2 linked regions of the Homo sapiens genome follow. The protein of the gene in region 2 purifies or fractionates together with the protein of the main gene of each other region. This does not show direct contact. Each region holds a gene or a part of one and is shown on either strand. Other genes may lie near its edges.

The links.
Region 1: the proteins of MYEOV (region 2) and PRTFDC1 purify together in Homo sapiens (affinity purification with mass spectrometry; 2 studies listed by BioGRID and IntAct, with this or other methods). This does not show direct contact.

Annotation. Positions count from the first base shown.
Region 1 is NC_000010.11:24,947,482-24,958,885, forward strand, and holds the start of PRTFDC1 (phosphoribosyltransferase domain-containing protein 1), read right to left. Parts: upstream 5,126-11,404; 5' UTR 5,095-5,125; coding exon 5,047-5,094; intron 4,968-5,046; exon of another isoform or gene 4,883-4,967; intron 1-4,882. UniProt on the Homo sapiens protein: Has low, barely detectable phosphoribosyltransferase activity (in vitro). Binds GMP, IMP and alpha-D-5-phosphoribosyl 1-pyrophosphate (PRPP). Is not expected to contribute to purine metabolism or GMP salvage.
Region 2 is NC_000011.10:69,288,373-69,299,057, reverse strand, and holds MYEOV (myeloma-overexpressed gene protein), read right to left. Parts: upstream 4,904-10,685; 5' UTR 4,482-4,903; exon of another isoform or gene 3,826-4,481; 5' UTR 3,704-3,825; coding exon 3,563-3,703; exon of another isoform or gene 3,467-3,562; coding exon 2,666-3,466; 3' UTR 1,771-2,665; downstream 1-1,770.

The sequences.
Region 1 (11,404 bases), on a different chromosome or scaffold from region 2:
GTTCAAAACAGCAAAACATAGCCAAGCTGGGGGAAGTGACAAACCCATTAAGTGAGTCATTTTATGCAACATCCAAATCCCAGAAGTAATTCTGATTCTCTTTTTCGCACTGAAGATGCACTGAAAACTTTGTAAGTCATTAAAAATAATTTTTTTTGTGCTTAGACTATTTTTTGCATCATTTTTCTCCCTAAGGGAGAAAACACATACAAGAAGCTAATCTCTGCTCCTCTCCCCTGCTGAGCTCCACAGATTGGCCCTGTTCTCTCCTTCAGGCCATAGCTCTCATCTGTCCTCCACCAGCAAGAGAAAGGGGGTCTCATCCCTTCACTCTAATTCAAAGAATCCCAGACAGGAATTCTGGGATTCCTGTCCTAGCCCTAGAGCCAGGGAAGGAGGTACCCTGGGAAGGGCCCCACCTCACAACCATACATCTTGAAAAGTGGGGACAAGTGGTTTGCTAAAAGATTCCCAGGTTCTGCTCACAGAGGAATGAAGGAAGCTCGACAGGCCAACCACCTCCTATCCACATGCCTTCCTCTTCTGTGGTGGGTTTGCCCCACAGAAGGAAAACTCATTACCACCTAGTAGAGCTGTGCTTTCGATGGATTACTTATCTCTGATATTACCTGATTACTTATCTCTGATACTGCCGTATTTTCATGGGGGGTGACAGGAAGCCAGCCATAACAGAAACACAACAATCATTTCTGATTTCTCTCTTCTCCTGATTCCTACCAAACTCACTTAGGTAAGTACTAATAATAGCTCAGTTGATAATCATTTGGCAAAACCAAACCAGACAAAAACAAACAAACAAAAACATGTCTAATAACCCGATCCCCAAAAGCCAGGTGGATAGAGAAGATCTTTATCTCTCCCTGAGAAGTAACAAAGAGGTATCAACCAGGAATCTGGTGACTGTATTAGCTCCAGATCAAGTGACAAGCCAACTCTGAGCAAAATTTCTGACCTTAGGATCTACCTCTCTTATGTGGCAATTAGCATTTGCTACCATTTATTGTTAATGGTATAAATGTCCTACCTCCCCAGTTCAACCAAAAGCCAATTTATAGGCAAGAGCCATCTTAAATCTCTTAATATTCCCTTCTCTTGCACAAACTTTACTTCTCGTTTTATATTTATATCATCTGACTCTACATCCCTTGCCATCTTTATCAACAGATTTCTACCAACTCGGAATTTTCTTCTCTACCTCATTCCTGGACAATTCCTTGGCTGATTTACTCCAATGCCTACCTCAACGATCTTTCCAACGACTTCATCTTGTAGCTCCTTCACCAGCCTTAGCTCAAACTACATTCTTAACTCAAATCACATCTTTATTCCCCATTTAGCAATACATTCACATAGCCAGACCAGTCCTACAGATGGCCCCAACCCTGAAATTCCATCCTGGAATCACAGCTTGCTATGTAGTATAGTGATTGAAAGCTGGTTCAAATCCCGCTTCTGCCATTTGCTACTTATGCGACCTGGGTGATTTACTTAATCTCTCAGTGCCTCAGTTTCCTCTTCTGTAAAATGGGGAGCACACTAGACCTCCCTTACAGATTTGTGCTCAAGAAATGCTTGCTATTATTACCTGCCCTCTGCCCCTTTTTTCAGATGGGGTCTCACTCTGACACCCAGGCTGGAATGCAGTGGCACGATCATGGCTCACTGCAGCCTTGACTTCCTGGGCTCAGGTGCTTCTCCCACCTCAGCCTCCCCGGTAGCTGGGACTACAGGCATGCACCACCATGCCTGGCTAAGTTTTGTATTTTTTGTAGAGAGAGGGTTGGCTGCCCAGGCTGGTCTCGAACTCCTGGGCTCAAGTGATTTGCTCTCTCAGCCTCCCAAAGTGCTGGGATTACAGGTGTGAGCCACCACTCCCAGCCACCTGCCCCTTTTTAAAACTGGTACTAATTTGATTTTTTGTATCCCATCCTTGAGAGCTTTCTATTCTCCCAGTAAACTCATCCTCTCCAGCTCTCCCTTCCCTCCTGCCTTACATGCCATGAGCTGCCTTCTACCAGCAGCTTCGATTCGCTCTGAAGTTGCCTGCTTATATCCAACTTGAGGTTAATCTAATTATTCCAAGTTCTACTGGAGAAAAGGATGTAAATGTAGGGACTATCTCCATTATATGTGGATTATTTCCCACCTTTGTGGGCTCTCATGCAAGCACCAAGCCCCTTGGCAGCTGGTCCAGTTTATACTCATTTTTTTTGTTTATTTATTTATTTATTTATTTATTTTTTTTTTTTTTTTTAAGAAGGAGTTTCACTCTTGTTGCCTGGAGTGCAATGGTGCAATCTTGGATTGCTGCAACCTCCACCTTCCGGATTCAAGCAATTCTCCTGCTTCTGCCTCCCAAGTAGCTGTGATTACAGGCATGCACTACCATGCCAAGCTAATTTTGTATTTTTAGTAGCAGCAAGGTTTTACGATGTTGGTCAGGATTCTATTGAACTCCTGACCTCAGGAGATCCACCCACCTCGGCCTCCCAAAGTGGTGGGATTACAGGTATGAGCCACCTCACCTGGCCCTCTACTCTCTTGATACCCCTCTCACTACCTCTTTGCATCTTTCAAAAAATTACCTTGCTTCCAAGAGGACCTCTGTTGACACCAATAGACTGGGCTATTTACAGTGTTCTCTCACTTGTTTTTTAGACTTCAACAATTTACCTACTCTATCCGTGCATCTAGATTCACCTTATTCTTTTCTAAAAGTATGTAGTATGTTACGGTAGTACAAGTTGAGTACCCCTTATCCAAAATGCTTGGGATCAGATGCGTTTCCAATTTCAGATTTTTTTTCCTTTGGATTTTGGAATATTTGCATTATACTTCCTGGTTGAGCATCCCTAATCTGAAAATCCGAAATCCAAAATGCTCCAGTAAGCATCTCCTTTCAGCATCATGTTGGTGCTCAGAAAGTTTCAGATTTTGGAGCATTTCGGATTTTGGATTTTTGGATTAGGGATGCTCAACTTGTACTATATTTTAACCATTCTACCAATGCAGTGGTTGTTTAAAAGATTCTCCCTACTAATGGCTTTGTAATTGTTAAATACAGTGGCTGTTTTCCATCTTGGTATCCGACTTGCTGTCCCTGTAACATCTGACACTTCTGATGACCTCTTGACCCCGCCCCTCCTGCTCAACAATGCTCTATTCCCAAGGCACCCACCATGCTGCCTGCCCTCCCACCCTTCAAAGTTCTTTCTCGGTTCCTTCAACCAGCTTCTCCCCCACAGGCAGCCTCTTATATTTGGGACTTTCCAGGCTTCCATCCTTAACAGTTGCTTTAATTGTTTTTTCCATATTCACTGAGCACTCCCGAACATTACATATTATTCTTTTTGCTGATGACTTCCAAATCTCTCCAATCACTCTCCAGAATTCCAAATGTGAATTTCAAATTGCCTACAGTGCAGGCCAACCTGTGGGCCTTACAGGCACTACAAACTCAATTTGTCCAGAATGAACTTAATGATTGCCCTTTTTGCGTTTTAGTCCCCCTCCCATCCATCACACCGCTAGGCTTGCCCCTCCTCCTGGGGCAACTGGAATGGTTTTTGTAAAAGCATAAATCGGATACAATGATTCTTTTGCATTTGGTATGCGGGTCTCTGCCTGCAGTCCACATGGCTACTCCTGTGTACCCTTCAGATCTTGGCTCAAAGGTCACCGCAGAGAGGCTGCCCTGACCACCTGAGCAAAAGCATCACTCCCCCCTTCTCCTCCAATTACCCTCTATCCTGTTACCCTCCTCCTATTGCACATATCTCTATTTGAAATTTTCTCTATTTGTTTACACACTGCTTGCCTATGTCTTCTCTAGAACGCAAGCTCATGAAGACAAGGCCTTTGTCTTTTGCACCCCAGAGCCTACAGCACCTCCTACAACCCAGCAGGACAATAAACGTGTGGAATGAATAAATCAACTCCTCATCCTTTCAGAAGGAAAGGTCCTGCTGTTAAATTAAGCACTGAGCCCCACATTTCAACCTGACCCTTCTGTCTGAATGTGACACGTTTCCCTCCCCAGCCCACTTACTTTAGTTCAGGCCATTCATATTCATAAACAGATTATCTGTGAATGACAAGCTGATCCCTGGAAAGAGATGGCAAGTTAGCCCCACCCACCATCCTCACCACCATTGAGTTTCACACTGAACCTGACACAAGTTATAACCACCACCTTCTAGGAAAACCACTTCTCAGGGAGCAGGGAGGACGTGGCCACAAGGTCAAGAACGGGTTGGATCCTAGCACACTGAGAGATGGGTACCCTCTGGCTGACACCGTCAGGATTCTCAGGGTTAATGAGGCTCAGTTCTGGGAAACCAGCACCCCACACCCTCCCATCCGGACACACTGCTAGATATTTTACATGCATCCTCCCAATTGGCTCCAGAGCCCAGCTTGCTGTTGCTCCCTTTTACAGACAAGCCATAGGTCACTCAGGAGCCGCCAGCGTGTCCTAGAGCTCCTGCAGAGGCCTCCACTGCCAGAGAGCCCCCAACCTGGGTACCAAAGGCTTCAAATCTCAAGCTCTGTCCACTTGAGCTACTTTATTTCCTAGCTGCCTTCAAAACCCCTCAGTGTGCTTTTTAAAAACAAAACTTGAAGCCCGCCCTGGAGGAGTCAAGAGGAGACCCAGGAAGAAGGAGGCCTCCAGAGCAGCACGCGGGGGTCTCTGGGGCCCTGCCGGGCTCGCAGAAGCGACTCCCCGTGGCTCGCGGGGATGGGGACGGCTGGGCGCCGGCGGGACGCTGCAGGAGCGAGCTACCGGCCGGAGGACACGGGGGGACGCTGGGAACTCGGGGTGAAGGGACGGGACTCAGAGTTTCGTCAGATTGGGGGCGGGGAGAGGAGGCCCGGGTCCGAGGATGGAAGCGATCCCCGCCGGGAGGGAGAACAAAGCGGTGGCCCTCTCTCTCCCCCGACGCACGGCAAGCATTTAATCTACAAGCAGGGTGCCAGGGAGGGAGGGGAGCGGGCCGAGCCCCAAAATAGGGAGTTTGCATTTACCACGACGCCTCGCCCGTAGTCTGGCGCCTCCTCGCTGCTCCCGGCCATGTTTCTCCCGGGGAACGCGGGAAGGGAAGACGGCGCGGGAAGGAGCAGGGAGGGCGAAGGCTGCGTGGGGGATGGGACGTGGGGATGGGGACGGGGACGGGGACGGGGACGGGGACGGGGACGGGTCCGCCCCGCCCCGGGCCCGCCGGCGGGAAGCAGCGGCCTGACGCGGATCCATGGCCCCGGCGCTGCGCCCCCTCCCCTGGCTAGGCCGCGGGGGCGCGGGGAGCAGCTGCCAAGCCGCTACCGCTCCCCCTGAGCGCGGGCCCCGGACGCGTCCCTTGCGGCCGCCGCTGTCGCCGCCGCCCCCTGCCGGATGGTCGCGTGCAGCCCCCGGCCCCGCCGCCAAGCCCCGCGGGGACTCTGGAGCAGGAAGCCCGCGGCAGGAAGAGAACGTGTCCCCCAGGCCCCTGATTCCCAGATCCACCGTCCCAGCCCTCGGGCTAACAATCTCCTTGACTCCTCCCTGCCAGATTTCATGCACGCGATTGTCCCAAGCAGAAGCGTGAAAGAGCCTGTGAGCCAGCGTGCTCTTGGAGGATGGGAAGTGTCCTGGATGTGTTTTCAAACCTTGGAGCCGCCACCCACCTCTCTCCACCTCCGCTCATCTCCCTCCACCTCCCCTCACCTCCCTCCACCTCCCCTCACCTCCCTCCATCTTCCTCCACCTTTCTCCACCTTCCCCCACCTCCCTCATCCCAGGGCCTGGAGCTGGAAAGATTACACCCGATTGCTTTTAGGGTGGCCCGGATCTGCAGTGATCAGATCTGGGCTTTGAGGATCCAGCCTTTCGGCCTTTCGTCAACTGCATTCAGGGGAGGAGGGGGAGAGATTTTTACACATTCTCTGCTTTACCAGTTTTGCAAGAACATCTGGTCAGATTGTAATTGTTCCAGGTTGCAGCTTTACTAAAGCAATCGCTCTTTTCTGATTAGAAATCCTTCTTGTATGAGTCTGTTGTTCATTTCAACCCCTCTCACATGCCTATGCTCCGGTTCTTTGTCCACTCCTGTAGGTTCCTGCTTTTTCTGGGTGTGTCTTCATTCCCCAGGTCCCTGACATCTCACCAGCGTCTTCATTCACTCAGCCCAATTCGGGTCGAAGCCCTGAATCCAAGAGAACTTAACACAGTTTTCCTGATGCAGGCGTCTTTTGTTCATCTTCGAATTCTGGCACACAGAGGGGAGAGGAATGCTGATTTTGCCTAGTTTAAAGGGGAAATAGTTATCAATCGGTTAATGACGTTCTAGGTTGGAAAAATATTAGTCATTCAGACTTGGCGCCCTGGTCCTGCTCAGCAGGGCTGGCTCTTCATGTCGTTTCTAAGCGCCAGCGCCTTGGAGGGTGCAGCTCCAGAGATCCCTGAAATCAGGCATCTGCTTGGCAACTGCCTTACAGAAATGGGGGGTGTTGTTTCTCAGCACACGGGTAAACATTTTCTCCTAGTAATTGTGAGAGGGCGTTGTTTTGAGCCATTTTTGTAGTCTGCATCTCACTTCTTTTCCCCAAAGTCAAGCACCATCTTTTATTTTCATTTTCAAAGACCAGGCCCAGGAACCATATTCACAAGCAACATCATTAAAATTTCCAGGAGCAGAAAAGTGCTATCATTAGGATGATGATCAAACTTTAGAGTTCACAAGACTCTCCTGGGGAGCTGGTTAATGCAGCTTCACTGGGTGGGGAAGATCTGTGGAAGCACCTAGAATCCTGTACCTGCTGAGAGACACCAGATGGGTGTGATGTGGGTGGCTCATGACCCATGCTTTAGGGGATTCCACTAGACCATCTTACTGCTTGGATATCAAAACTTAGCCATGAGGCTCAGTGTGGGTGCAGGGCCAGATTGGGGGGTACCAGGAACTTCAAAATATGTCACAGGAGTAGTTGCCATACAGAAGTCAAAAAGCATCAACTTTGGTTCCAGCCTAGACACTGCGGAAGATGTAAGGGAAATGGTAGATAAATCTTCTTCCCTTAGAAAGGCTATTAGTTTAAACGTAAAATCCAACAAGTTCACAGTGAAAAATGTAACTTGCTTGAAAGACAACAGGAATCTTATGAATGTGTGCTCAAGAACATCCTACATAGACTTATATAGGTCATCCTATAAAGGGCACAGAATGATGAGTAAATAGTTTTTAAAAATCTAATTCATTTTATTATCTTTGTATATTTTGATAATACTTTGTGCGGTCTGATTACACTTCGATACTTTGGAGAGCATTAACATAATACAAAATAATACTTGATAACCCAAATAGTATTTGCAAAGACCGGTATCCAGAAATAACAGCTCATCTGTCCAAGGCTTTATTCTTAATCTTGCATTATGAGGATTTAGAGGCAAAAATTCTTTTTAAACCTCAAATTTCTGTTACATGTTGTATTAGTCTGTTCTCATATTGGTATAAAGAACTACCTTAGACCTGGATAATTTATGAAGAAAAGAGGTTTAATTGACTCACAGTTCTGCAGGCTGTACAGAAAGCAAGGCTGGGAGGCCTCAGGAAATTTACAATCATGGCAGAAGGCAAAGGGGAAGCAAGCACGTCTTACCATGGCAGAGCAGGAGAGAGAGAGAGCAAGGGTGTAGTGCCACATACTTTTAAACCATCAGATCTTGTGAGAACTCACTCACTATAACGAGAACAATATGGGAGAAATCCACCCCCATGAGCCAATCACCTCCCACCAGATCCCTCCCCCAACACTGGGAATTACAATTCAACATGAGATTTGGGTGGGGACACAGAGCCAAACCATATCACATGTCTAGTGGAATAGCTTTGGACTAGGACCTCTATTTTTCTGTAACAATCCATGTTACTTTAGCCAATGAGTCTAAGCCAATTATATCAGTGTAATATACATCAATTTTCTCATCCATAAAATGGAGCCACCCATTTATTCTCTACTGCATATGATGATGAGATGAATGTGAGATAACATGCAAGAGAATTCTTTGCAAAATGCTATAAAACTGTAAGATATTATTAACCTGACATGCTGTAAAAATGTATGACCAAATGTTTGTAAAATTATTCCATGTGAAAATGACAAGGAATTGTCTTTTAAGGTTGATGGGGCTAGGCACCATGGCTCACACCTGTAATACCAGCACTTCGGGAGGCCAAAGCAGGAGGCTCACTTGAGGCCAGGAATTCAAGACCAAACCTGGGTAACATTGTAAGACCACATCACTATAAAAAATTAAAAACTTAGCCAGGTGTGGTAGCGTGGCACCTGTAGACCTAGCTACTGGGGAGGCTGAGCTGGAAAGATTGCTTGAGGCCAGAAGTTTGAGGCTGCATTGAGTCATAATTGCACCACTGCACTCCAGCCTGGGTGACAGAGCAAGACCCTGTCCCTACAAACAAATAATAATAATAATAATAAAAGATTGACGTAAGGTGACCAATCAGGGATAGTTATAGTCCAGGGATAGTCTAGAGCTGGTATGAGAATGAATACAGAAAAATGATAAAATTATTAAAATAATGAGATTTTTCATAAAAAGGGATATTTTAGCTCAGACTGTCCATTTCCTTTTCTTTTTTTTTCCTTTCCAACTTTTATTTGAGGTTTGGGGGTACACACGCAGGTTTGTTTGGGAAAATTGCATGTCGCAGGGGTTAGGTGTACAGATTATTTCATCACCCAGGTAATAACCATAGCACCTGATACATAGTTTTTTGATCCTTACCCTCCTCCCGCCCTCCACCCTCAAGTAGGCCCTGGTCAGACTGTCCATTTTCTAATATACCTTTGAAAGAGCTATAAGAATAAAGATGTGCATCTTTGCAAAGTTAATAACCAGTCAATATACTTGTATTTTTCTATCATTCTCTTTATTACATTTTAGCAGTAGTTTCTCTGCATTTTATTTATTTTTTTTTTTTGGTGTTTATATTGTGTTTACTTACTTTTTTTTTTAGTTTTATTTTTAACTGACACATAATAGTTATACATATTATCTATGGGGTACAGTGTGATATTCCACTACATGTATACATTGCATAATGATCAACTCAGGGTAATTAGCATACTCATCATCTCAAGCATTTTTCTTTTCTTTGTGGTGAGAACATTCAAAATTGTCTCTTCTAGCTGATTTGAAATATACAACACATTATTGTTAAATATATCATTCTGCTGTGCCATACAGCAGGTGTCCCCAACTACCGGGCTGCAAACTGGTACCAGCCTGTGGCCTGTTAGGAACTGAGCTGCACTGTAGGAGGTGAGTGTCAGCGAGCATTCCCACCTGAGCTCTGCCCCTGTCAGATCAGCAGCCGCATTCGATTCTCACAGGAGCACAAACCCTATGGTGAACCGCACATGGGAGGGATCTAGGTTGCATGCTCCTTCTGTGAACCTAACTAATGCCGGATGATCTGAGATGGAACAGTTTCATCCTGAAACCATCCCCCCTCAAAATCCGTGGAAAAATTGTCTTGCACAAAACAGGTCTTTGGTGCCAAAAAGGTTGAGACTACTGCGTTAGTGTACCAGAACTTATTCCTCTCATCTAACTATAACCTAGTACCTACTAACCAACTTCTCCTACTCCTGCCACTCCTCCCCACCTTTCACCTGACTCTGCTAACCAGTATTCTAGTCTCTACTTCTATGTGATCAACTTTTTAAAATTCCACATATAAGTGAGATCATGTCGTATTTGCCTTTTGTTTCTGGCTTTTCTTGCTTAACATAATGTCCTCCAGGTTCATCCATGTTGTTGCAAATGACAGGATTTCATTCTTTTTGTTGAGGTCTTATCCAAAAAATCCTTGCCTGGACCAATGTCATGAAGTGTTTCCACTATGTTTTTTTTCTAGCAGTTTCATCATCTCAGGTTTTACATGGCAGTCTTTATTTTGAGTTGATGTTTGTTTGTTTGTTTGTTTGTTTGTTTGTTTTGAGACGGAGTCTTGCTCTGTTGCCCAGGCTGGAGTGCAGTGGTTTTATCTCGGCTCACTGCAACCTCCGCATCTCAGATTCAGGTGATTGTCCTGCCTCAGCCTCCCAAGTAGCTGGGATTACAGGCGCCCACCACCACGCCCGGCTAATTTTTGTGCTTTTAGTAGAGATGGGGTTTCACCACATTGGCCAGGCTGGTCTCAAACTCCTGACCTCAAGTGATCTGCCTGCCTCGGCCTGCCAAAGTTCTGGGATTACAGGCATGAGCCACTGCATCCGGCCTTGAGTTGATTTTTGTATATGGTGAGAAAGAGGGGTCTAGTTTCATTCTTCCACATGTGGATATTCAGTTTTCCCATCACCGTGATTCTCTGCATTTTAAATTCTGTAATCATCCTGTGCCACTACCATGGTGAAAACACAAATATTTATAATTCACTGAATTCTCTGCCAGCCTGGAGGCTTTTGTCCTGGAAGTATATACTAATTTTTTTTTGACATTTTGGTAATTGACTTTTGTCAATACAAATCTGTAATTGAAGGAACAGTTCAGTCTATCCACTGAATTGTTCCTAGCCCGTCACTCAGTGACACTAGATTGGAAATACAGAAAGGCATTTAATTCTTTCTGCACTAGACTGGAAATACAGAAAGGCAGTTAATTCTTTCTGAGTCTTGAAACATGAAAGTAAATTAAAAAAAAAAACCTTTCAGTCTGGGAATTGTGTTGAAATCCATAAACATCTGAAACTTAGTGACTCAGATTGTTAGTCACAGAGTCACTGGTTAGAATCTGGATGAAATCCACTGTGGACAAAGGCCAGTAATAATGATGATGATATTTTGCTTTTCCATAGTGCCGAACAAAACTCTTTACAAATGTTACAAGTACAAAAGAAAGAGTAGCAAGACATTTTTTCTGCAAGTGCTCAGGCTAAGTAAGACTCTTGCTAACTTTGAAGTAGTTTATTTTTCCCTCTACATAAATACAAAAGAAATGTAGTGGCAAATAATTGCAACAAAACCCAACTTAAGCAAAGGCCTCATTAGTATTCAATTAGCATAGTAACCCGTCTTTCCCGGTCTCTTGTTTGAAGCAGACTGGATCCAATGTGTAGTCTTGGAGTAAAGAAAATAATATCTCCAGAGTAGGTCTTACAAATAAAGCCAAGGCTACACTCAATTGTGTTTTGTATTATTACACTTTCGTTAGTAATTCACCTTCCACTGAAGAACACACAGAGGGTAGATCTAAGTTTGTTCTCTTGCAATAATGTCAGACCTGAGGAATATCAGCAGTAAGCGCTGGGCAGTTTCAGAGATATCCTCCCACTATCTCCCCTTCTGACCGGAACAGGAATTGGATAGCTTCAGAGCAAAAGAATAA
Region 2 (10,685 bases):
AGGATGGGTCAGTGGGGCCAGGGGAAGCGCCAAGGTGCTCAGACCCAACCCTCAGCTCCTATAGAATCCTGAGTTTGAGGCTCTGCGCCAGGCCCCTGTGGGGGTGAGCTGGGAGGCACCGTGGGAGACAGAAGCATAGTGGCGGGAAGGGGGGGTCCTGACAGAGGCCGTGGGGTGGACAAACTCAAGCCTCTTAAACCCCAGGAGCACCCTCACTGGCCCCTGCAAACTTGCAAACACCCTGTGAACTGGCTGTAGGGCTGCGGGCCGGGCAGCCCAGGCAGGACACAGGAAGCGGGCGGGTCGTGTTTTTGTGAATGAAACTGCAGCCCAGCTTCCTCCTGGTCTCCACGCCCTGCTGGCCTCGCTTGACCACTCCGTAACCTCAGGCAAAGCACTGGCAGAAAGGGGGAACTTCAAAACGAAAGTGTGAGTCAGACAGGAGAAGGAAACGGAGAGAGAAATTCTTGTTTCACGGAGGCCTCACATGAGACCTGACCTGGGCTGGAACTGCAGCCTGGCCCCCAGCAGCTCCAGTCCCAGGGATGTCCACCTGCAGCCTCGGCCTGCTCGCCATGCCTGGCCCCCAGCCCCTCCAACACCATCTGGATGGGGAGGGGCCACCCACACCCCATCTGGGGCCCTCGACAAGGACGGCTGCAGAGGGTTCCCCGACAGTCATTTCCCATTGATCCCAGGAATGTTGAGTGAGCACCTACTGTGTGCCCGGCCTTGTGCTGTGAACGAGATAAGTAGGGCCCTGCCTTCATGGAGCTGACAGTCCACACTGGGGGCCGTTAACATGGGGAGCAAGTTGAATAGAGTTTGGGGTTGTTCCTTGTGTTACTATGGAGATAAATAGGTTGCTATGACGGACTGGCAGTATGTACGTGGGAGGAGGTGGCATGCAGCTGGGCTCGGAAGGAGGAGATGGGACCACCACAAAGAGCGGAGTGACGTGCATGCCAGGTGGCAGGGAGGCAGCCGGGGGAAGCAGCTCAGGATGTTCTAGGAACTCCAGAGGTTGTTGCGACGGAAGTACAAGGAATGAGGGGGCCAAGGATGAGAAGGAAGTGGTGCACGTGGGGCATTGGGGGTGGCTTGCAAAGCCCCCATTACCTTCTGAGCCCAGAGCTTGGGCAGGGCTTGTGCCCAGACAGAAAGGAAGCTTGCTGAACACCGGGGTTTCCCGCCTTGCAGATGGTCTGCTTTGGGGAAGTCACAGGTCCGTCTCCCTTGGAACAGGCAGGAAAGCCCCTCCATCCTTGGTGTCTGGGGTAGGGGAGTGAGGCAGGGCTGCTCACTCAGCCGCCTGCCTGGGACCCCTAAGCTTCCTCTTGACCCCTGACTCCTCTCCCAGGCAGGTTCTTCACCTCTCCTCCCTTGCTTGGAATGAATGGATTCTGCTGTCCCTTTAAAGGGACCTGAGTCAGAGAGTTAAGAATGAAACTGACTCATGGTAGAAGGGGTGGTCACCAGCTGGCCAGGCGCCAGGGCTGCGGCGGGAGAGGAAGCCGGGCGGCCGCAGCTGCCTGTGTGTGCTCGGCTGCAAAGGGCAGAAACCACAAAACCCCATTTGAAATTCCGCCGTGCAGCGTGTCTTGTGTAATGAGGTTACCCCTCATAATGGGGGCATTCAGGGCCCACACGGGCCTGGGGGCTGGGGGCCTGCCCCCCGGGGCCAGCTGATGCTGATGTCATCTTCAGTTAGGAGTATCCCCTCCCTTGATTAAGAACTTTAAAAAAAAAAAATGCACCAGGAAACTAGAGTGAGAGCCAGAACGGAAGTCTTGGTTTTATTTATAGTTGATAACTTACATCCGGCCTGCTCCTCAGGAAGCACAGCAGGGAGGAGACAGAGCCCAAAGGAGACGGCGACAAAAATGCCCAAACCCCTGAGCTAATGTGGTGACTGAGAGCAAGCCTAAAGCTCCCTTCTGAGCTCCCCAGCAGCCAAAGCAAAGAGAGAAACAGGGTCCTGCAGCATGATGTCACAGAAAACCAGGGACCCTGGAGCCTGGGTTCCAATAAGAACCTTACATTCTGACGCCTTAGATTTCTCCCTGGAAAATGGGGAGAAAAATACTGAATTGGTTGGGAGGGCCATGCAACACACCCAGCACAGTGTCTGGATGCATTTCAGAGGCCCCACCAGTCTAGGGTCTACAGAAAGACAGTACAGGCGCCTCACTCTCCATGCCTGTACGCATGGCAGACATCACTCATGGATTGCAACACGCTTCCCTGGAGCCAGATGCAGCCTCGTAGCCCCATTGCACAATGTCTCCAGGGGCTACCACCAATGCCCCAGTCGGCTGGAGCTGAACTTGCGTGTCCTCCCAGCCTCTAACCAGCTGAGAAAATGACCAGAAGGAGCTGGGTTATCATGATTTTCCCAGCACCTGGCTCATGCCTGCACCTGGGAGACACTCAATAAAAAATTGTCTAGTTAGGGAAGAGGCAGGGAAGAATGGGAGAAAGGAGAAGGAAGAGGAGAGGGTAGGAGAGTTGGGAGAGGAAACTTGGAACTTAGGCAACTTGTTGAGCTTCTCTAGGCCTCAGTTTCCTCATCTGTTAAGTGGGGGGTTTTAGTAGCTACCTCATGGAGTCATTCTGAGGATTAAATGAGGCTGGGCATATAAACCACTTGGCACACAGGACGTCCTCAACAAGTGAGGATGATGATGAGGAGGAGGAGGAGGAGGTGGTGGAGGAGGAGAGGAGAAGCACCTGACACTGGGGGTGGGTGCATAGTGGGCCCCACCTGGCCAGTCCTCCTAACTCCCATGCGCCACCCCCCCAGGGCCTCAACAGTCACAACAGTCAGCCAGGACCCAGCCACCCGCAGAGGCAGGCCCCAGGTGGAGCAGTGAGGGGTGGGGTGCCGGTGGAGGGTCAGGCATGCTCTTCTTCCCCTTTCATAGTCAGGGCAGCTCGATTCTGCCAGGGTCATGCAGAGTGCCCCGGCACCGGCCAGAAGTCCTCGCCCAGGTGAGCGCAGAGCCACATCCATTCGCGCCCACATAATTTCCATGGAGAGCCCATGCCGCCCATGCACCTCCTCAGGGCACGAGCTAATGGCCTGCTCAACGCCCACTCTAAAGGCTTCTCCCAGGTGAGCAACGCCCACCACCCTTGCAGACTGACTCCCAGAATTCCTGTTCCCAGTGCCACACAGAGTGCCTTGTGGTGCATCTGTGACCCTCCTGGCCCGGGACACGTCCACGTCTTCTGCCTCCTGGCTGAGCCCCGCACCTGTCTGGGCACCCTTGTCTCCCTTGTTTCTCTCCCGGTCACCAGCTCCAGCAGCAAACCACAGAGACACAAATGCTCCTCTCACCGCAACACGCAGGGCCTGGGAGAGACAGAGGCGGCCCCGGGATCTGCCGGCTTTGGAGCCCTCCACGAAGTGTCCAGCCTGCCGGGTGAACATGAGCAACGAGTCCCTGTCCCCAAGGGGGACAGACTACAGACAAGAAAACCGATGAATAAATCAGACATCAGCAGGTGGCATTCACCCACCCAAGAGAAGAGGTTACTGGGGTCAGGGAAGTGTCGGCACCTGGTGGAGGTGGAAGGTCAGGAAGGACACACCACGGAGACAATGACACCAGGAGGGAGACTGTTCCAGGCAGAGGCAACAGCGAGTGCAGAGACCTATCGGGAGAGCTGGGGTGTATGTGACGCAGATTCTGAGGGCCATGAGCCGAGGGAAGGAGCCAGACGCTGTCCTAAGTGCCAGGGGAAGTTGTTAGAGGTGTTAAGCGTGGCATGACGTGGCTGGATTTAGGGTCTGAGATGAACTTTCCTGCTCCTGAATGGACTCTGAGGAGAAGGAAGATACTACCATCCGTAATCCACCCCGGGAAGGCACTGACCTCCTTGACCATGGGGAGGATGAGAGGCCGCCGCTCTGTGCCTGGGTCCCCATGGCCTCTAGGGTCCCTTCACGTTTTCACCTCATGATCCTGGAAGCTGGGACCTGCCCAAATCCACCGGGTGGCCCCAGCCTCCCCATCTCTGGGGCAGGGGGTGGGCAGCCTTCTCCTCCTGGTTTATAGCCACAGATGACTCCAGGCACAGTGGTCCTCAACCGCCTCTAGGGACCATGGGGACGGCTGCCCTCTGTGTGTGACGGTGGCTGGGCAGAAGCCAGCTGGGCTGTCGTGGGTAGGGCCTGGAGGCCTCTGGCTGTATGGTGGTCTAGCTTTGGCACCACCTTGGGGGGCTCCGGGTAGGAGGTGTCCACCAGAGGGGACCTGGGCAGCTCAGCAGAGGCTTGGTCACTCCCGAGCCGTCTGTGGGTCCCACTGGTCTGTACCCTCAACCCCACTGACCTGCACTGGTCATGCCCAGCTCTCACAGGATGATGGCCCCAGCCTTGTAATGAGTCACCTGCTGCCCTCCTGCCCCTCCAGCTGGTCCCCCACCCAGCAGCCACAGGGCTTTCCTTAAAACATAAGAAAGACCCTGCTTCTTACCTGCTCAGATCCCACCAAGAACCGGCCACCTCACTCCAGATAAACTCCAGACTCTTCACTGAGCCCAAAGGCAACGAGCAGAAGTGTCCAGAAATCACACAGAGCTCAGCAGGTGGTGAGGCACCTGGACCCGAGTCACCCAGCAGCTGAACAGGCCATCCCTGAGGCCATGCACGCCCCGGCCCTGCAGGTGTGACGGCCGAGGCTTCCACGACGGGGGGTGAGTGGGAGCTAATATGGCTGGTGAAAGCACTGGGTTCAGTGGGGATGGCATCTCCCGCCCTCTGTCCAAGGTGGGGAAAAAGTCAGCTTCAGGTGAGGGAGACCCTGGACGCCTGGCTTTGGGCTGATTCCCCACTCACTTGGCCTCTCCCAAGCATACTTTCCTGCTTTGTAGGGATGTGGGTTCGCGGGACAGTAACAGGAGAATCAAGGCAAGAACTCAGAGGGGGATAGCCAAGGTAGGCGGAGCTGCCTGGTGGGTGGGACTAACCCAGGTGGGTGGGGCTGCTTGTGAGTGGGGCTAGCCCAGGTGGGTGGGGCTGCCTGGTGGGCAGGGCTTTCTTCCCCGTCAACATTTCCCTCTCTCGGTTAAGGCCAGGGCAGAGCCCACACATGGGTGTGCCCAACCTTAAGGCCTGCCCTGGGTGAGTTAAGACTCCCCAGCTCACCTAGGTCCTACCTGAGGGGAACCTACACGGCCAACCTCCTCAAGGATCCTGAAGCCACCCAGAAGACAGTGGGGCTAGGGTGCCATTCATTCATTCATTTATTCATTCACCTATTCATTTATTTACTCGCTTCACCACCCTTTCCTGGGTAATATTAAGAATAACAGTGGGCCTAGGAATATAGAACATTCTTAGGGGTTTCTTGCAGGCCAGGCACCCTAAGAAAAAGTTATGTAACCCACGTGGCCTCGCTGTGAGGGGGACGACTGCTGTCCTCACTTAATAGATGAGGAGCTGAGCCATGGAGGCCTCACAGCTGGGCAGCTGGGGGTGGACCCCATAGACTGGAGGGGGATGGGCAGGGGCAAGGAGTTCTGCTGGCCCCAGGCCTCTTGTACACATCTTGGGAAGTACTAAAAATGAGTACTTGCTCAAGTCCCTCTCTTCATTGAGCACAGGGAGCTCTTGGCCCTTCCCTCCTCCTCCCTTTACCCTCACCGCCCAATTCCACACGGGTGTACTGAGCACTTGCTAAGGGCCAAGACCAGCACTAGGTGGAGCACACAGTAGGAACCCAAGGCAGCCCTCCCTGCCCAGCTCTCCAGGACACTGTCGTCAATGCCAGCGGGAAGCATAGAGAGGCCAGGGAAAGACGGGCAGTCAGGAGGAAGGAGCCAGCGGAGGGGAGAGAGGGCCGGCAGCTCAGTGCACCTGGACCGTGGTGGATGCTGGACTATGACCAGAGACAGGGCTGCAGCCCAGAGCTAGCCCCAGACCCACAGGGCCTCAGGGGGCTTCACAGGCTTTGTCAGGGGTTTGGACTTTCTCCCGAGGGCTGGGGACCCTGCAAGTTGCAGAAACTGGGCTATATTTGGCATTTTAGAAGCCTCCCCCAGCTGTAGTGGAGGGGAATTGGAGGGAGTGGGAGAGGAGGTTCCCATTCTCACTCAGGTGGGAGATGGTGGTGGGATGGAGGGTGACCCTGATTGATAGGACTCAGGGACAAATTAAAGGTGAGGGCCAGGGAGAGGGTTATCCAGACAGCTCCCAGGAAGATGGCAGTGGGATGGAGGGTGACCCTGATGGGACTCAGGGACAAATTAAAGGTGAGGGCCAGGGAGAGGGTTATCCAGACAGCTCCCAGGAAGATGGTGACACCAGTGAGGTGGGGAGATAGGATGGCATTTGGTTCCCACTGAGCTGGAGATGCCTGTACAAAGCTTCTAAGATACCCAAGGCAGAATCTGCAGCTCCTGCAAAGACAAGAGCTCTGCTCTGCCTCCAGGGAATCAGGGGAGGTCTCCCCAGTGCCCTACTGGGACCTCCAGAGACCCTATGCGAGCCTCCCCCAACCCAACCACCAGCCCATCAGCGCCACCTACCGGCTGCTCAGGGCAGGCACTCAGCAACTTGCTGAGGGCAGATCCTGATGTGTCCCCGTTTTACAGATGAGGAAACTGAGGCCAGGAGACAAGATGACGCCTGTTTGAGGTTACGTAGAGGTGGAGGTGGCATAAGACCTCAGTTCTTCCTGGCAGATCCTCTCCAAAGAGCCCCGTCTGAGAGCAGATGGAAGGAGGTGGTGTCAGGAGATACCTTATCTTACTTTTGTCTGCTGTCAGCATTCCAACAACCCTAGATTATTTTGGCACCCCGCAGTGTCACTCAGTCTCACCATAGCCTCACTCTAATTATCAAAGCTCATCTTTTGGGCTGATATCTGCTTCTGGGACTCCCAGTAGCCCACCTGGGTCCTGCTGGGGAGGACTGTAGAAATCTGACTGCCCCAGGTTGATTTTCTCCCTCTGTCTTCAACATTCAGATTGCCAGCCCACCTGTTAAATCATGATGAGTTGGTGATGGTGATGGTGATGGTGATGATAGTGATGATGGTGATAATGATGGCGTTGATGATGGTGATGATAATGGTGATGATGGTGGTGATGGTGATGGTGATGATGGTAAGGATGATAATGGTGATGATGATGGTGGTGATGATGGTGATGACGGTGATGGTGATGATGGTGGTGATAATGATGGTGATGACGGTGATGGTGATGAAAGTGGTGATGATGGTGGTGATGATGGTGAGGATGATAATGGTGATGATGGTGGTGGTGGTGATAGTGATGATGATGATGGTGAACATGGTGAGGATGATAATGGTGATGATGGTGGTGGTGATGATGGTGATGATGGTGGTTATGATGATGGTGATCATGATGGTGAAGATGATAATGATGATGATGGTGGTGGTAATGATGGTGATGATGGTGGTCTGATGATAATGTTGGTGATGATGGTGATGATGGTGGTGATGATGATGGTGATGGTGATGATGGTGGTGATAATGATGGTGATGGTGATGGTGATGATGGTGATGATGGTAATGATGATGATGGTGATGATGGTAATGGTGATGACGGTAATGATGATGATGCTGGTGATGATGATGATGATGGTGGTGATGATGATAATGGTGAGGATAACTTGTACTGAACATGCACCACATGTCAGTAGTTTTCCCACACTATTTCATTTAATCCTCATGACAACTTTATGGCTAGGACTACTGTTATCCCCATTTTACAGAGGAGGAAACTAAAGTGTACAGTGGCTCAGTCACATAGCAAGTTAGCAGTGGAACCTAGGGGCACCCAGGCAGTTGCACCAAGACCTGCTCCTAACATTACCCTATACTGCTTTTGGCTCAGCCTACAGAGCTGTCTTTGTGACCCCTTCTCTGACACTCCTCCTCTGAGCCAAAGGGCAGCTCCTCCCATCATCCATATCAGTCTGACTGCTCTTTCGCAGTAAGACACAATGAGGAAGCCAAAGACTCTAAAGGGAGGGGCACAGGGATGCCAGTTTCCCTCAGAGCACTGCCAAGGAGGGACCACAGCTCCAATGGCGTGGGCATATGATGTTCCACCTGCCACAACTCCATGCCCAACTCTCCTGCTCTGAGGGATCAGGCTTGGCCCTGACCCTTCTGCCTGTGAGCAACTGGTGAGCAGCCAGCCCAGGTTGCAGCCACCAGCATGTGGGCACTGGTCAGCACAAGGCATGTCTCCTGTCCAGTACTCAGGGCCTCGCTGGCCACAGTTGGACTCTGAAAGATTCCTGATGTGGACTCAGATGTGTTTGAGCCTAAAAACATGCTTTTCATTGGTCCCACCCTACTTCAAACAAAACAGAAGCCTGGGTTGTTCTAAAAAACCATGCACAGCTGCATCATCTATTGCCCAGGCCCCAAGGGTCAGGTTCTACCAAAATTTCTACCTGCATGATCCCATTTAACCTTCCAGCTGCCCTGCCAGTGGCCCTCACTCCATTTTACAGATGAGTAAACTGAGGCCCAGAACAGTCATGCTGCCTCTTCAAGGCCATAAGCCGTTGGAGATCAGAGCCAGGATTCTGAACCAAGGCTATGTGAAGCCAGTGGCCCTCTCCATGCCCCACCCCAGCCCAATATGGTGCGATCTTCTTGGGAAAAGTAAGAACTGATGCTGAATTAATTTTTAAAATTGTGGGAGGCAGAATTCTATGATGGTCCCCAGACCCACACCTCTGGTATACATGCCCTACATAGTCCCTGCCCCTGTGAATATGATGAACACTCTATGATAGGATTGTGTTTGATGGCACTGTTGACTTGTTCATTTTGAGAAAGGGACACTAACCTAATGGGCCTGACCTCATCACATGAGCCTTTTACAAGTAGGGTGTTTTCTCCATCTGGTCCTCAAAGTGGAAGTCGGGAATTGGACGATGAGAACCACTGCTGATTTGGAAAATGAAGGGGACCACATGGCAAGGAATGTGGGCAGCCAAGGGAGCTGAGAGTGGCCCCAGCCAACAGTCAGCAGGAAACAGGGACGTCAATCCTACAGCTGCACCTGCAAGCAACTGCATTCGGCCAACAACCCGGATAAGCGTGGATGCAGACTCCTCCCCAGATCCCCCAGAAGGAGCCCAGTCTGCCTGACACCCTGATTTTCACCACGTGAGACCACGAGCAGAAGACCCACAAAGCAGTGCCTGGATGTCTGACCTGCAGCACTTTGAACTTGCAACTGGGGTTGTGGTAAGCTATTGAGTTGGTGGCGATTTGTTATGCCGATAGATAACTAATACGGGTATGCCTGCAGGTGGTCTCCGGGGGATCTTTGAAGGTCATGGCCAGTGGGGCCTTTCCTCAGGAGGTTCCTGAGGCTTGGGTTCCTCCTGGGATGGGGGCAGGGGAGCCGGTTGCCTCTCCACCCAGACCTGCTTGGGTGCTGCAGAATTAGCAGGTGCCACAGTGAGAGCATGAGCTGTGGAGAGCAAGAGGGAGGCCTTGGTTCAAATCACTGCCTTGCACCACCTCTCTGGGCCTCCCGTTCCCCAACAGTAAAGCAAGATGGATGCCAGCAAGTTGTGAGTGAGAGAGTGAACTAAGTGATTCATTAAAAAGTGCGTAGCTCAGTGCCTGGCACAGAGTACGTGTTTAAGAAGCCCTGGGTGGTGATCAGATGCTGATCTCGACATTGTGTTATGATTATCACACACATGACAGAGGGTGTCCAGGCCAAGCCCTATAGCACTGAAATAGGTACCTGCCTCTCTGCCTTGCTGGCTGGCACCCCAAGTAGGAATTTCTCCCGCAAGGAGCAACACAGAAGGCTGGCTGGAGGCCCCTGCTGCTCCTGGGGCAGAGAGGGACCCTGTCCATTCACACTGGTAGAGCCACCTACCAAGGTCCTCCAGAGCCTTGCAGAGGGGTTGAAGAAGGCATTCCTTCAACAATTGTAAAAGGTGCATTTTAGAAACCAAGAGGGTCTTGCTTCTGTGAGTCGGGACTGAGGGTGAACTGGACACCTGGCCCTGTGCCAGCACTGTCAGAAACAAAAAGGAACCAAATCCCTGTTTCCATGCATTCTGGGAGAGAGACTCAGAGACAATGGCTGGCAGGGGATGGGCACAAAGGTGAAACTCAGTCGTTCTGTGATGGGCCCCAGGAATGGAGCAAAGGAGAGAGATTCTTTGCATACAGGTGGTTTACAACACAGTAAACATCTCAATGCAAAGCATGGGGCTTTCTCAGTGCAAAGCATGGGGCTGTCCGAGACGATGCCGGAGCTCGGAGGAGCTGGGCCAGGGAGGGCGGGGGGCTTTGCTGTCAGTGCTGCAGAGCTAGCAGAAGCTTTCCAGGCTGCGCAGGCAAGAGGAAGCAGCCCAGGCAGAGGCAACAGGTGGATGCAGAGGCCGGAGCAGACACGGCAAGTCAGGGAGCTTCGGCTGCTCAGCATGAGTCATGCCCACCTCCCTGGGTCAGAAGCCCCTGGACCTTGCTTCCGGACAAGATTCGTGTCCCAACTTTGGTCCCTTCCAAGACTTACTCAGACGATGGCTTAACTGAAGTGCACTATAGACAGTGAGCCGGCAGCTACATGGGGCCCAAGGGAGAGGCTGGAGGCTGGGAGCGGCACCATAAAGCTAGAGGGTGTGGTTCACAGGTCTGGGTTTAGCTTTCACAGGTGTCTGAGGCCAT